Linked DNA regions of Homo sapiens: region 2 is linked to region 1. A link means that fine-mapping ties the variant in region 1 to the expression of a gene that starts in the linked region. Tissue or cell type: prefrontal cortex. Region 1 holds a variant in brackets; the other region holds the start of a gene. All regions are shown on one strand. Distances are between the middles of the regions.

Region 1 (7,885 bases):
AGCTTAGAGCCTCTGACTTTTTTTTTTTTTTTCTCCCCCCTCGCCCCCAGGATCGCTACGGTTCCTACTGATCCGAGCTCTGTGACTCAGGCTTACGATGGTGACGGCAACAAGAACTCCACAGTTCCCAGGCTGGGGATGCTTTGCCTTGTGGAAGCTGGGGAGGATTTGTTACTTCGTATGTGTGGTGTGTGTGTGGGGTGGCCTTTGAGGCGCTCACTCCTGTGAGGGGAATGGTCAGTACCAGCCCTTGTCCTCTGCCTGTGGACTGAGCCCTTTATTCCCTCTCACACCACCCTCCGTGTGTTAGACTCTTGTCCTTCTGTCCTGCCCCCACAGCTGCTGCTCACTTATCCTGCCATACTGGGAAAGGGGGTTCCCCCACGATGGCTTATTCTGGGTCCAGACTTTCCCCAGGTAGGGAAAGCGGAAGGTAGAAGGCTTTTTTTGCTGGCTCTAGGGTTCTTCTAGTTCGAGGCCTTGGGTCCCCATCCTCTGGAACCAGGGGGAGGCCTGGAAGGAGTTCACTGTAGACCCGTCCCATGGGGAAAGAGGCTGCGGACTTGCTGCTGCTGCTGCTGCCAGTGGCCTCTTCTGGGTGCCAGGAGAGGGGAAGGACCTTTGTCTGGGCGTTACCAAGGGCTGGAAACTTTACCTGGTACCTAAAGGTTTCATTTGGGATCAGACCGGAGACCCTTGGGTTCTCCCGTCTCACCACCCCTTTCTACAGTAAGCACTTGGAAGATTGTTTCAGGGTGTCTCAGGGTCCCTCTGTACCATCTGCTGTGGAATGCAGGACCCTCTGTGACATTCTTTATCCCTTCTTCCCCGGGTTGGTGGCCATGGAGGGTCTTGTCTGCTGTGATTCGACTCTGGATGCTGTGAGCTTGATGCTGGCCAGGGAAGCAGAGGATGTGAGAGGCAGAGGCAGGCTCCTGGGGCTGAGCTCCTTCCTCTGCATCATTCTGGGCTTGGCCTGGACAGCACCCGCCAGTGAGAGCTGTGGGCCTCACCCTCTGGCAGCTGAGCCAAGCACTGTCATTCTTGGTGCCATCTTCCCCTGCCGCACCGGCAGTCTCAGCCCAGCCCCCACCTTTGGGTTGTAGGTTGGGCTCCCAAGCAACACAGACCACTCTTCCCCTTGCCCCTCCCCCAGAGGGACTTGACTTTCTTTCTGGACTGTTTGTATTGAAACAAAGTGGTGTCAAAATAAAGCCCCTGCAGGGCCTGGCTCCCTGTTGGTCTGAGTGAAGCAGTGTCCTCTGGATCCTGCCTCCCTGCCCAGTGCCGGCCCCTGGCCTCACTCTCTGGGCTCCCACCGGTAATGGTAGGGCGTCGGTACCGAAGCTGAGGACACTCTCTCCAGGGCCTCCTGCTTCTCTCTTCTCTGAAAGCCAAAGGCCCCTGGCTCCTTGGCTCTGTGCTGCCGTGAGGTCCGGTGCAGCTTCGACCTCACCACCCTGTGGCACGCAGAGGAAAGAGCTGGCATTAGTTGGCCCTTTAACTCGCTGGCTGAGGGCGAGCGAGCAACCTCAGCAGTCCTGCCCCTTGTCACGGCAGTAGGCTTGACTGGGGATGGGTTTCAGTGGAGTTTAAGAAATATTTAACGCCGGGTACAGTGGCTCATGGCTGTCATCCCAGCACTTTGGGAGGCTGAGGCGGGTGGATCACTTGAGGCTAGGAGTTTGAAACCAGCCTGGCCAACATGGTGAGACCCCATTTCTACTAAAAATACAAAATTAGCGGGGTGGGGGCGGTGTGGTGCATGCCTGTAATCCTAGCTACTCAGGAGGCTGAAGCAGAAGTCACTTGAACCCGGGAGGCAGAGGTTGCAGTGAGACTAGATCGCGCCACTGCACCCCAGCTTGGGTGATAAAGTGAGACCCTGTCTCAAAAAAGAAAAAATTACATATATATACATACACACACATACTCTTAGACGTTAATGGGACCCTTTAAATTTAGGGAAGAAAAGGTGTGTGTTTGTGTGTAAATCCTTAGCTTGGCCACCCCTTTCTCTTGGGGGCTTCTGAAACATCTCTGTGCCACCTTAGGAGTCCTCACGGTAGTTACAGACCACTGGTCTGGGAAGTGGATGATTAGAAAGGATGGGCAGAGGGAGCCAGGGGGCTGTAAGCCAGGGATTTGCAGAGTGTAGGTTTGGGACTCATTCAGCTTTGGGATCATCTGGAATTTCTGGACTCCATCCCAAGTTGATAGAGTTAGACTCTCTGGAGCTTGGTAATTTGCATCGTCAGTAGGCTTTCCTGTGATTCTGAGGACACCAGGATTTGAGAACCATGTCTCTTATGGGCTGTGCATCATTGTGGGCCTACAGAGCTCATCACGCAGCCTGAGCTTTTTTTTTTTTTTTTTTTTAAGATGGTCTCATTCTGTCAGTCACTCAGACGGGAGTGCAGTGGCACGATCATGGCTCACTGCAGCCTCAACCTCCTGGGTTCAAGTGATCTACCTCGGGTCTCCCAAGTAGCTGGGACTACAGGTGCAAGCTACCATGCCTGGCTAAGGTTATTTTGTAGAGATAGGGTCCTACTATGTTTCCCAGGGTGGTCCTGAACTCCTGGGCTCAAGCAGTTGGCCCACCTTGGCCTCCCAAAGTGCTGGGATTACAGGCAATGAGCCACTGCATCCTGGAGCAGCTTCGGGGCTGGAATGCCTAGTCTTGGCCTCAGCTCTGCAGGGGTTTGGGAGGCAGTTCCTGTAATGATCCGTTCTGGGTAGGGATGAGCCCAAGGAAATGTGTATGCCTAGTAGTGGTGACATCCACCTTCAGAGGAGGCAGTCCTGTTCTGCTTGGGCTTCTGGGTGGGTTTTGCTTTCTGGGGGACCCCGCCCCTTCAGCCCTCAATCCAAAGAAGTTGAAGACACTCGTCCTTACCTGCCTCCAGTCTTGGCTGGGATGTGTCTGCCCCAGGCTGTGTCTGTCTGTCTTTCACAGCTGCATCCCACTGTTCTAACCCCAAGCAGGTGCTTGGCAAATGTTGACTGAAACCCTGGCTGGAAGGCTGTGCAGTATTAACCCTTTATGGCCACGGTCTTTAAAGTTATGGGAACCTGGCCTTGAACCCTCTGAACCTGTTTCCTGAAGGCCGTTCCAGCTGTGAGCACTTTTCCTCTGGAAGGTTGCTCTTGTGCGAAGCTAGGCCCCTCTGCTCGTTGTCTGAGGCAGGTCCCCAGGTCTGAGTGGGCCACTGGCCTACCTCCTAGTCCTACCAGAAAAGCACCGAAAACCCAAACTCCCCCTCTCCCTTCTCCCCTCAGCCTAGGAGCTTTAGACTCACCAGTTACCAGACATGAGGGACTTTTTATTCGTTTCACATGTTTGTTTAGCTATTAGACACAAAGGGGTCAAGACTTGAAGCAGTTTTTGCAAGTGAAATCATCTTCTGGCCCACCCTTCATATTACCAAGGCTACTGGCTGTTCTCCAACAGGCCACAGCGGTTATGTCCTCCTGGTACTTGCGTCGCAGGTGTCACCCTTGATGGTGCAAGGCCCTGCGTGGCTATTCGGGTTCTCCCCCTTAATGGAGTTGCTGTGAGGAGATGAACCTTATTGGGGGACCCGCAGAGGCTGGCTCAGAAGAGACTGCTCTTAAGAGGTTAGGAGGACTAACAGGCTACGGCGTGACAAGGTGGCCTCAGCACAGTCTGTCAGCTTGGGGCCTAAGTGAAGTTCACAGGCTGATAGGGCCAGGGAGAGCAGGCCATTCACCTTCCGGGGCCACTGGCTGGGCTGATCATCAGAGCCCCTCTGGCTGGTCTTGGGGCTGTTATTCACCTTGTCAGCAGCAGAGGGCAGCACAGCAAGGTGCTGGAGAGGAGGCTGGGTGGGCACACCAAGGGCTGGGTGGGAGCAGGTACAGGGCGCTGTGGGCAGGACCCTTTGGACTCCTCAAGTCTCCGACTCGTCTGTCTCTTCAGTGGAGCCATCACTCTCTCCATCCACTTTTCGGGAATGATGGAGAGGTCTCCAGGGAGAGCCAACCCGGGGAGGGGTCCGGGAAGGCAGGCAACTGGCCTCTGGACTGGCTGTGACCGAGTTGACCAGGCCTGGGACCTGGGCCAGCCTGAAGAAGGGAAGAAGCCTGGAGGGCAGCGAGAGGCCTCCTGTACAGAGAGCAGGGCCTCCATGCCCACTCTTAACACTAGGGTAAA[C/T]CCCTGGGCTGCAGCCCCCAAAGGACTCAGAGGGAGGGACACCTCAGGCCTCCACTGGCCCCCAGACCCTTCCCTGGCAGATGTGGGATGTTACAGACAAGTGGTGTTGGCCCCAGATGGGGCACAGCCGTGTCCGACCCGTCTGGCCCCCACAAGGGGGCAGTATCCTCCCACTTGACACTTACAGCCGTTCCAGCTCTTCATCCATTGCTGGGTCGTGCATCAGATCCCCCTTGTCAGGCAAAGCTCCTAGGAGATCATTGGGGGCACAGTAGTTAATCTGAGGGCCCTTCAGCCAGGCAACAGATTCCTCCATGCCCCTCACCTTCACGGCTGCCTGTTCTGCTGACCCTGCGAGGGCCGATCTAAAGATCTGAGGACTGCTAGAGGGGCCAAGAACAGTCACGGAGCAGGAAGGTGCTCGCTGTTGCTTGATACATTTATTGAATCCCACTGCCTACTTTCCCTGCCTGGGGCAGACACCACAGCCAAGGAGTGTGGTGATCCCCTTCCAACACCAGGTGGTGGTTGTGACCTGGTGCTGGGAGTTGAGTTCCTTCTTGAGGCCTCAGGTACTGGGCTGAAAAGGATATGGTCCAGGCTAAGCCCAAAGGTCAGACATTACCTAATTTTGTGTCCCTAAATCAGGATGACCCCACTTTGGAGACAGATGGTTAAAAAAAAAATGCTGCCTCTGCTTCTCCAAGGAGGATCCCAGGGGCAAGAGGAGAAGGCTGGGTCAGGGCCAGAATTAACCCGGCACAGGCAGATTTCCCCTTTTTCCAAATCTTTTTCAGATGATGCCTCCTGGCCCCTCTTGCCCTAAGTTAGTGGTTTTCAAAGTACATCTCATAGAACCCTCTCATTTGTGGGGTGCCCTGGGGACTAAGGGAACAGGGCTGACCTCCGTGACGCGTCAACCAGTGTATCTCCGGATTTCTATTTCATACGCTGGAGATGCAGGTGAGGCCTGAGACCACATGCTTCTTTCTGTCTCCCATTCCATCCAACCACCCAATGTTAGTGTGCAGTAAAAGTGGTTGAATGAGAGTGACTTTTTTTTTTTTTTTTTTTTTGAGACAGAGTTTTGCTTTGTCACCCAGGCTGGAGTGCAGTGATCATGGCTCACTGCAGCCTCGACCTCCCATGCCCAAGCGATCTTCCCACCTCAGCCTCCTGCGTAGCTGAGACCAATGGTACATGCCACCACACCCAGCTAATTTTTGTTTTTTTTCTAAAGAGACGGGGTTCTCCCTATATTGCCCAGGCTGGTCATTAACTCCTGGGCTCAAGCAATCCTCTTGCTTTAGCCTCCCCAAATGCTGGGATTACAGGTGGAGCCACCATGTCTGGCTATTAGTGTTTATTTATTTGATGGAGTTTCGCTCTTGTTGTCCAGGCTGAAATGCAATGATGCGATCTTGGCTCACTGCAACCTCCGCCTCCCTGGTTCAAGTGATTCTTCTGTCTCAGCCTCCCCAGTAGCAGGAATTACAGGCATGTGCCACCACAACTGGCTAATTTTGTATTTTCAGTAGAGACGGGGTTTCTCCATGTTGGCCAGGCTGGTCTCGAACTCCTGACCTCAGGTGATCCGCCGCCTCGGCCTCCCAAAGTGTTGGGATTACAGGCGTGAGCCACCACACCCAGCCAGTGTCCTTTTTAAAGGCCCTTAGAAAAGGGGGATGAGGTTACTTCAGGCTGTGACCCAGTTGCTAATTGGCTTCTCCTTCCTAGTGGCTGCTACTGGTGGGAAGAAAGAGTGGTCATAACGAGGAGTATGAAAGAACACCAGGGCAGATCCCACCCGCCTCCCCCTTACTCTTGATTCCTGACTCTCGCCTGTTTTTGTTTTTTTTTTCTTTTTTGAGACTGTCTTGCTCTGTCGCACAGGCTGGCGTGCAATGGCGTGATCTCGGCTCACCGCAACCTCCGCCTTCTGGGCTCAACCGATTCTCATGCCTCAGCCTCCCGAGTAGCTGGGATTACAGGTGCGGGCCACTATACCCAGCTAATTTTTGTATTTTCAGTAGTGATGGGGTTTCACCATGTTGGTCAGGCTGGTCTTGAACTCCTGACCTTAGGTGATCCACCTGCCTCAGCCTCCCAAAGTGCTGGGATTACAGGCGTGAGGCACCACGCCTGGCCTGTCAATTGCCTCCTTTCTAGTCTTAGTCCAGTGGGTAACCTTGGCTACCAACTTCAGTTGAGGGCTCCCCAGACCTGTGCATGCCCCAAGCACTGACTCAGAATAACCAGGCTGTGGGTGGCATGCAGTTCAGCCTGCTGGGGTTTGTGCTTGTGTATCCCAGAGCATCCCTGGCTAACTGTATATTGTGTAAGATAAAAAATATAAAGCATCCAGCACAGTACTTAGCCTGCTGTGGTTGGCATTTAGTGAATGTTAACTTTCCTTCCCTTAATCCCATTCCCTCAACTGGCAAAAGGAAGGGGGATGCTGTGTGTCTTTTCCTTGAGACTCAGGCACCTGGGATCCCAAGCACAGCAGGAGGATCTCTCGAGACACAAAAAAGAACTCCTTGCTGGGCGTAGTGGCTCACAACTGTAATCCCAGTACTTTGGGAGAGCAAGGTGAGGGGATCCCTTGAGCCCAGGAGTTTGAAACCAGCCTGGGCAACATGGTGAAACCCAGTCTGTACAAAAAACACAAAAATTTTCCAGGATGGTGGCGCATGCCTGTAGTCCCAGCTACTAGGGAGGCTGAGGTGAGAGCATCACTTGAGCCCGGGAGGTCGAGGCTGCAGTGAGCTGAGATTGTACACAGCACTCCAGCCTGGGCAACAGAGCGAGACTCTGTCCCAAAATAAAACAAAAAACAAAAAACCTTAAACTGTAGTAGAATGGAGGCTTACTGGCTCTTCTCTTAGGAGAGCAGTGGCTGTGGGAGGAGGAACAGTGGGGTGGGTGGAGAAGGCTCAGTGAAAAAAAACAGCAGGCAGGAAAAACTGGGCCACTGCAGACTTCCCCTACTTTTGTTTTTCTCCCTTTCAGATTAATCAGATTTTTTTTTTCAGCTTGGAAAAAAGGTCTCCGCAGACACACCTGTGCCTTGTTTATAAATGGGATTCAGGTCTCTTTGATATATAATCTCTAGCGTCACTGAGTAAATAGTCCTGTGTCTGCCCGACCTGCAGGCTGCTCCCCAAAGCAGAGCTGGGGTTCTCTGAGGAGGGGCTGGGCGCTTCTGCTATGGGGAGGTGGTTTCATGTTGGGGCAGGGCTGCAGGCAGGGAGGGCTGTCCCCTACCATGGGAATGTGTAAGAGCCATGTTTTGTCGCCATATTCCTGCTCCCTGGGATTGAGTCCGGCCCTGGGAAGTCAAGGCAGAGATGGTGATGCCCCTTCCCCTCTGGAGCCGTGTTGCTAACAGAGGCCAGCTGCTCCCTGTGTTGTGCGGCAGGAGAGGCTGACGGCTGCTTAGCTCTGACTTACCGAGGGCTTGGTTGATTCCACGGTGCTTTGAGAGAGCCATGAGGAATCCATAGAAGGTCAGTCTCTGAACATTGCTGAGGGCCTCTTTGACAAGTGCTGGGGGTGGGCAGCTAAGAAGGAGAGATGCCACATTCAGAGCCTAGCCAGCCTCAGGGCCACCTCTGCATCCATACTTTCAGGTTCATGAGGATACCCACAGCCAAGCCAGGGACCTGCCTTGGGAGCCCCAAGGCCCTGGGGGATCAGGCCTTCACT
Region 2 (7,885 bases), 220 kb after region 1:
CCAAGCCTTTGAGACATAAAATTCAAACAGCAAACACCCAAGGAACTGAACAATGAACTAGCCTTTTCAAATATTTCATATATTCATTGAGTACTGGGTAATAAAATACATAAAATCTTTGGAAAAAAGTCTAGGCATTGCTTGACATTGATACTGTTATTCATTAGATACAAAATTGTCTGTGATATCCCCTTTTAGCTGATTAATGGATGTGGTCACTGTCTTAAGCTCTCTCTCTATATATATGTCTATATATATGTTCATGTATATATGTGTATATATATAGCTTTCAAAGACCAATCAGCCCTTAAACTTGGTAAAAAGGCACTCAACTTCATTTAAAAATGCATATTAAATCTACTCAGACTATCTGTCACTTAGATTGAAAAAAATCCAAGTTTGATGTATTTTGTTGTCAGCACAATGGGGAAACAGGCATTCTCTTTCATTGCTGGTGGCAAAATGGTACAACACCTATTAAGGGCAATCTGACAATATCTATAAGTACTTCAATGCATATGCCCTTAATCCACCAATTCCACTTTGTGGAACTTATTCTTGCAGATACACTTGCAAAGGAACAAAACTGCAGGTTATTCATTGCAGCATTCTTAGTAACAGCAAAAGGCTAAAAACAACTTGTTTACCAGTGCGGGACTGGTTAAATAAATTATTTAAATACTATATAGCTAAAAATGAATTTCATGAAGAACGAAGAAGCTCCCTACTGACTGAGAAATTACTTCGAGGCCAGGCGCAGTGGCTCACGCCTATAATCCCAGGACTTTGGGAAGCCAAGGTGGGCAGATCGCTTGAGCTCAGGAAGTTCAAAAGCAGCCTGGGCAACATGGAGAAACCCTATCTCTACCCAAAATACAAAAACTTAGCCAGGTGTGGTGGCTCGTGCCTGCAGTTCCAGCTACTTGAGAGGCTGGGGCAGGAGAATGGCTTGAACCCAGGAAGTGGAGGTTGCAGTGAGCCGAGATGGTGCCACTGCACTCCAGCCTGGGTGACAGAGTGAGACTCTGTCTCAAGAAAGAAAGAAAAGAAAAAACAAAAGAAACGGAAATTACTTCAAGATGTATTAAATGAAAAAGTATGCACTGTATACTCCTTTATGTATATAATAAACTCTGGAAAGATACACAGGAAAACAATAATAGTGGTTACTTTTGGGAGGCTGAGGATGGATGGAAACTGGGCAGATGGAGGCAAAGGGGTAGGCTTTTCACTAAAAACATCTACCTATCTATCTATCTATCTATCTATCTATCTATCTATCTATCTATGCATTTTAGAGGCAGGGTCTCACTCTATCATCCAGTCTGGTCTTGAACTCCTGACCTCAAGCAATCCTCCTACGTCAGCCTCCCAAAGTATTGGGATTACAGGCATGAGCCACCATGCCAGGCCTAAAAAATACTTTGAATCAAGTTTCCATATTACCAACCTTAAAAAATATTTTAAAATTAATTTTTAAAATAAGTTAAACAAAATGTAAACCAGAATTGTTTTTCATTTAAAAAGATGTTGGCTGGGCGCGGTGGCTCACGCCTGTAATCCAAGCAGTTTGGGAGGCCGAGGTGGGTGGATCACCTGAGGTCAGGAGTTTGAGACCAGCCTGACCAACATGGAGAAACCCATCTCTACTAAAAATACAAAATTAGCCAGGCGTGGTGGCGCATGCCTGTAATCCCAGGTACTAGGGAGGCTGAGGCAGGAGAATCACTTGAACCCAGGAGGCGGAGGTTGGGGTGAGCCCAGATCGCATCATTGCACTCCAGCCTAGGCAACAAGAGTGAAACTCCATCTCAAAAAAAAAAAAAAAAAAAAAAAAAGATGTAAGCCAGGTGCAGTGACTCACACCTGTAATCTCAGTACTTTGGAAGGCCACAGTAAGAGGCTTGCTTGAGCCCTGGAGTTCAAGACCAACCTGGACAACATAGTGAGACTCTTTCTCTACAAAAAATTAAAAAATTAACCAGGGATGGTGGCATGTGCCTGTAGTCCCAGCTACTTGGAAGGCTGAGGTAGCAGGATCACTTGAGCCCGGAGGTTGAGGCTGCAGTGAGCCGTGATAGTGCCACTGCACTCCAGCCTGAGTGACAGTGCCAGACATTGTCTCAAAAAAAAAAAAAAAGAAGAAGAAAAAAAAAAAAGATGTGCATGGTACATCCATACAATGGAATATTATTCAGAAATAAAAAGAAATGAGTTATCATGCCACAGAAAGACATGGAGGAAACTTAAATGCTTACTGCTAAGTTAAAGAAGCCCATCTGAAAAATTTACACACTGTATGACTCCAACTACATGATATTCTGGAAAAGGCAAAACTTTAGAGACCATAAGATCAGTGGTTGGCAAGGGCTGCAGGGGGAGGGAGAAGGATCAATAGGTGGAGCACAGGGGATTTTTCAGGACAGTGAAACTATTCTGTATGATAATGGAATGGTGAATACATGACATGCATTTATCAAAACCCACAGAACTGAACAACACAAAGAACCCTAATGTAAACTATGGACTTTAGTTAATAATATGTATCTATAATAATATATCTATATAATAATAATAATATATAATATATTATTATATATTATAAATATATATGTTTATCCATTGTAACAAATGTACCACACTAATGCAAGATGTAAATAATAGCGGAAACTGTGAGTGAGGGAGACCCAAGGTATATGGGAACTCGCCGTACTATCTGCTCAATTTTCTGTAAACTTAAAACTTCTCGCCATGTGCAGTGGCTCACGCCTGTAATCCCAACACTTTGGGAGGCCGAGGTGGGCGGATCACCTGAGGTCAGGAGTTTGAGACCAGCCTGACCAACATGGTGAAACCCCGTCTCTACTAAAAATATAAAATTAACCTGGCGTGGTGGCGCATGCCTGTAATCTCAACTACTCGGGAGGCTGAGGCAGGAGAATCGCTTGAATCCGGGAGGCAGAGGTTGCAGTGTACTCCAGCCTGGGCAACAGGAGAGAAACTCTGTCTCAAAAAACAAAACAAAACAAAACAAAACGTCTTTAAAAAAATAAAAGTCTATGAATTATTTAAAATGTGTATTGTGGCCGGGCGCGGTGGCTCACGCCTGTAATCCAAGCACTTTTGGAGGCTGAGGCGGGCAGATCACGAGGTCAGGAGATCGAGACCATCCTGGTTAACACGGTGAAACCCCGTCTCTATTAAGTATACAAAAAAGTAGCCGGGCGAGGTGGCGGGCGCCTGTAGTCCCAGCTACCCGGGAGGCGGAGCTTGCAGTGAGCCAAGATCGCGCCACTGCACTCCAGCCCGGGCGACAGAGCTAGACTCCGTCTCAAAAATAAAATAAAATAAAATGTGTATTGTGTGCATATGTGTGTGTGTGTACATATCTATGCGTGTGTGTGCCTTTTTTCATTCATTAAATGCCTTATACACTAAAGATGCTCAACAAAGTACTACATATACAGTCTTAGCTCAAGAGCCAAGTCAATATCTCAAGTTCTGTTGGAGTGGGCAAATCCGGTTCTGATCCTAGCGCTACCATTTTCTAGCTGTGTGGCCTAACTTAACGCAAGTTACCTCTTCAGCCCCAGTTTCTCCACCTGCAAAACTGGAAGAAAACACGGTAATTCCTCCTAGGGCTGTTGAGAAATTCAAATGAAGAATGATGCATGAAAAATGCTTAGCACAGTGCCTAATGAAAAAGAAAAGCTCGAAATGTTCGCTGACTGATTTGGCACTTGAGGTTCCAAGGTTATTCTTACTCCACTACCAGCATATCAATAATACCCCAACAGGGCCCCAAATCCTCAACGCCAACCTGACCCATTTGAACACAATCCACATTGCCTGAGTTCCAGCCCCTACACTTCAAACATTCTTTACTTCCCAGGTGCTTTTTTCCTTCCTGCTCGGCCTTACAGGCTCAGGCCCTGGAACCCCCGCCTCTCCGCCCCTCCCCATACCACCCGGACCCGATCCCACTCAGACCCCGCCCCCGCCTCCTCCCAGACCCTGGCCTAATTCGTCTGCACGTCTTTCCCTCCCCAAAGTTAAAGGGGGTTCCTACCCAGATACTCGTAGTCCGGTAGGGCTAGGCGCTCCGGACTCAGCATCCTTTGACCGGGGTGGCTTCAAAGCTCCAGCTCTCCGGCTTCCGGAACCCAGGTTGCCGTCTCTCTCCGTTGCCATGGCACCCACGCGGCGGAAGGGGGACGGGAGCTGGAGGAGGTGTCACACAAACAGTCTCCGTGTCGCAAAGTGGAGCTGGCCACTCAAGTTCCGGGGGCAGTCGCTTCACGATGGTCCAGGTTTCTTTGGACTCCCATTCTTGAAGACTTGGTTTTAGAGGAATCTGAGATGAAGAATTCTTTTGAATCCGTTATGTTTCCCAGTGTCGAAGAATTACTGTCAGCCGCCCATATACGCAGTTTCTGAATTTCATAACTATCCCTGCTTTTATACACTGTTTATCCTAACTCAGTAATAGCCCCCGCCCTTTGGCCCCCATAAACACTTAGTATCCCATTAGCTATTTTTATCTCTTTGGTATTTACTATCTTAAATTGCTACAAAGTGCTTACGTATGCATATACCCTGGATGCTTCTAGAGGTCAGAGATGTGTCTTTTCTGCCTATGACGGCTGGACACACAAAAGGTACTCATTAAGTCCTCTGAACTAATTGCCATTTCTTCTCAATTCTCACTCAGTCGCCCAGGCTGGAGTGCAGTAGCGTGATCTCGGTTCATTGCAACCAGCGCCTCCCGGGTTCAAGCGATTCTCCTGCCTCAGCCTCCCAAGTAGCTGGGATTACAGGCGCCCGCCACTCCGCCTGGCTAATTTTTTGTGTTTTTAGTAGAGATGGGGTTTCACCATGTTGGCGAGGCTGGTCTGCAAACTCTTGACCTCAGGTGATCCGCCGACCTCAGGTGATCCGCCTGCCTCAGGCCTCCCAAAGTGCTGGGATTACAGGCGTGAGCCACCGCGCCCAGGCTCAATTCCTTTTTATCTTTGGTTCTTCTTTCTATTCCTAGCCCTTACTATTTGGTACCTTTCCCAGGTGTCTTTCCTTTTTCCTACCAAGACATTGCTCTTCTTGAGGGAGAGGGGCTGCAGAAACGAGGACACCAGTTAGATTTTTTTCCCTATATGCCCAATTGCTCACTTCTTCTTTAAGAGAATATTCACTGGTTTTCAAGTTCCTAAATATTTCTTTTCGCCCCTCTCCACTCCTGACAACAGGTCAGAGATCTGTAGCACTAGACACAGTTCAGACATAGCAGAAAAAGCCACTCTGTCCTCACTTTTTTAGTGCCCTCCCCCTCCAACAAGGTGAGGTTTGTGAAAAAGAGACAAAGAAAACAAAATCAAGCTATCAAAGGAATGACTGGGAAACCAGTAGACCACCTACACTGGGAGGAAAAGGAAAGAGGAGGTTCTTCTCTTTGTGTTCCGAGTGGCCTATTCTTAGCGTCCTCCAGTAAGGAGCCTCAAACCTCCTAATTCTTGCTTTCCCTTAAAATTGTATATGTGTCTCAATTCTAGGCTCCTGTGAGTCACTCTAAGTTTGGATGTGGTGAGGTTAAAAGGACAGAGCCAAAGTAGGAGCAGGGCTTAGTGTCTTGAGGCAAATTTACTAATTTGGTATTTGGTGTGAAGTCCAGCAAATCTGATTTTTTTTTAATTGCCTTCTTATCTGCTTCCCCCATCTAGCTTGAGGTTATGGGAGGTTCATATGTTCCATAACTGTGGCTTTTTACTATTTTATTAATAAGGTAATACCATAGTAATTATTAAGTGATAATTTTACTTTATTCCCAAGCAACTTGTAGCTATTTGCAAATAATCTTATTTGTCCTCATAAAAACTTTCTGCTGAGGTGGGCGGATCACGAGTTCAGGAGTTCGAGACCAGCCTGGCCAATATGGAGAAACCCCATCTCTACTAAAAATACAAAAATTAGCCAGGCGTGGTGGCGCACGCCTGTAATCCCAGCTACTCAGGAGGCTGAGGCAGAAGAATCACTTGAACCGGGGAGGCAGAAGTTGCAGTGAGCCAAGATCGCACCACTGCACTCCAGCCTGGGCGACACAGCGAGACTCCGTCTCAAAAAAAAAAAAAAAAAAAAAAAAAAAACCTTTCTAAGGCACTTTTCCATTTTCTAACTAGGGAAACTGAGGCACAAGTCACAACAGTGACTTGTCTAGTGACTTGTCTAGCATCATGCAGCCACATAGTGGTAGAGCTACAACTGGATCTCAGCTATCCCAACATCCAGGCCAGTGGTCTGACCACTAAACCACACAGTCTCTTTTTTTAGGGTTTGTTGACCTGGCTTTTATTTATTTATTTTTCCTTTTGCTCTGCCCTGCTAGCAACTGGAAGCTCCCAGATAGAAGAAGATAATGTTGAGTCCAGGCTGAACATTTGACATCGTCTTATTTGTGGAGCATTATCCTGGGACTTGGCGGGTGCTGGCTGCTGGGGTCTGTGTGGTGGAGCTGGGAACCAGCCCCAAGAATATAGCTTTGTTTGGGCATTAACCCATTTGTGGTTATAATAATGATAAGTTTCAGCACCAGTGGCGCCCGACTGTTAATGACTCAAAGAAGGCTAAATAAGAACAAGATGTCATCTCTGGAGCAATTTGTAGGTTTTTCCTACAGTTCCATCCCTTCCATAAAAATCCGAAGGACCCCTGTATTCAAAGTCAGTCTTCCACTCTGAATGTCCTGAACAGTCTATTGAGGAGGAGGACTTAGAAAAGTAGGAGGTTGCTAGAGTAAGGCTTCACAAAAATTTGAAGTTTCACCGAAATAACAGGTGGCCTTACTGGTAGTGGAATTACTGACTGTTTACATTTTTCTTCTTTATATTTTTCTATAGTCTTAAACTTTCTATAATAGGCATGTATTATAACCTGAAAACAAATAATAAATGAGTGGCCTGAAAATCTTTAAAATTTTTTAAGCAGATGTGATGACCTTCCAGACAGTGTTTGTTTTTCCCAAAAAGAAGCCACTGCTAGATTTCTCTTCTGTCACAGATTACATGATAATAGATTTTTGAAACACATTGGTTATTGGTGAAATTTTTCAATGAAACATACACTACATCAGTCTTAAGAAGAGTAGAAATATATAAGAGTTGTTAAAATTAAGTGTATTTTTTGTGACTTGAATGTGAAAGAAAGAAAAAAAATGTCAGCCTTTGATTTAAATTGACTTTTCAGGTTCTTAACTTATCATAATATATTTCTTAAAAATTTACCAAAAAAAAAAATCACCGAGGTAAATCGGTAAGTCAGAAGACAACTCCATAATCCTGAAAAGAGGCAAGTGATAAGATATTGATGATAAATAGAGCATCGGATGTTAAAGGCAGTACTACAGCATGACGACTGTAAACATCAAATTCAGAACAATAAGAAAAAAACAAGAGAGAGAATATATTGAGATGGTTTTTGTTTTTGTTTGTTTGTTTTTTGAGACAGAGGCTCACTCCATCATCCAGAAAGGAGTGGAATGGTGCAATCTCTGCTTACTGCAACCTCTGTGTCCCAGGTTCAAGCCATTCTCCTGCCTCAGCCTCCCGAGTAGTTGGGACTACAGGTGTGTGCCACCACACCCGGCTAATTTTTGTATTTTCAGTAGAGACAGGGTTTCGCCATGTTGACCAGGCTGGTCTCGAACCCCTGACTTCAAGTGATCCACCCGCCTCAGTCTCCCAAAGTGCTGGGATTACAGGTGTGAGCCACTGCACCTTTTGTTTTTTGTTTGTTTGTTTGTTTTGTTTTTTAGTATATATAAGGTCTCCCTTTGTCACCCAGGCTGGAGTGCAATGGCACAATCACAACTCACTGTAGCCTGGAATTCTTGGGCTCA

Which allele goes with the higher level. Positions count from the first base shown, and alleles are read on the strand shown. Sizes are in standard deviations (SD) of each study's normalised expression.
For the expression in prefrontal cortex of the gene that starts at base 4,160 in region 2, C is the low allele of the variant in region 1 and T is the other (small effect, 0.40 SD a copy in CommonMind).

The links. PIP is the estimated chance that this variant, and not a neighbour inherited with it, causes the effect.
Region 2: CSTPP1 starts here. The variant in region 1 is fine-mapped to the expression of CSTPP1 in prefrontal cortex (CommonMind, PIP 0.95).

What each region holds. Positions count from the first base shown.
Region 1 is chr11:47,157,668-47,165,552 of GRCh38, reverse strand. It overlaps CSTPP1 (centriolar satellite-associated tubulin polyglutamylase complex regulator 1), which reads right to left. Exons shown (of 9, transcript NM_024113.5): 7 at 7,631-7,740; 8 at 4,363-4,426; 9 at 3,306-4,089. The coding sequence ends at 3,915. It overlaps ARFGAP2 (ARF GTPase activating protein 2), which reads left to right. Exons shown (of 16, transcript NM_032389.6): 16 at 51-1,252. The coding sequence ends at 71. Among named protein-coding and RNA genes, the nearest start is that of ARFGAP2, 15 kb to the left of the region's middle. RefSeq lists silencers at 4,284-4,450, 4,201-4,495. The variant C/T (reference allele first, on the strand shown) is at 4,178.
Region 2 is chr11:46,933,036-46,940,920 of GRCh38, reverse strand. CSTPP1 (centriolar satellite-associated tubulin polyglutamylase complex regulator 1) reads right to left here and starts at 4,160. Exons shown (of 9, transcript NM_024113.5): 1 at 4,070-4,160. The coding sequence starts at 4,115. RefSeq lists an enhancer at 4,093-4,302.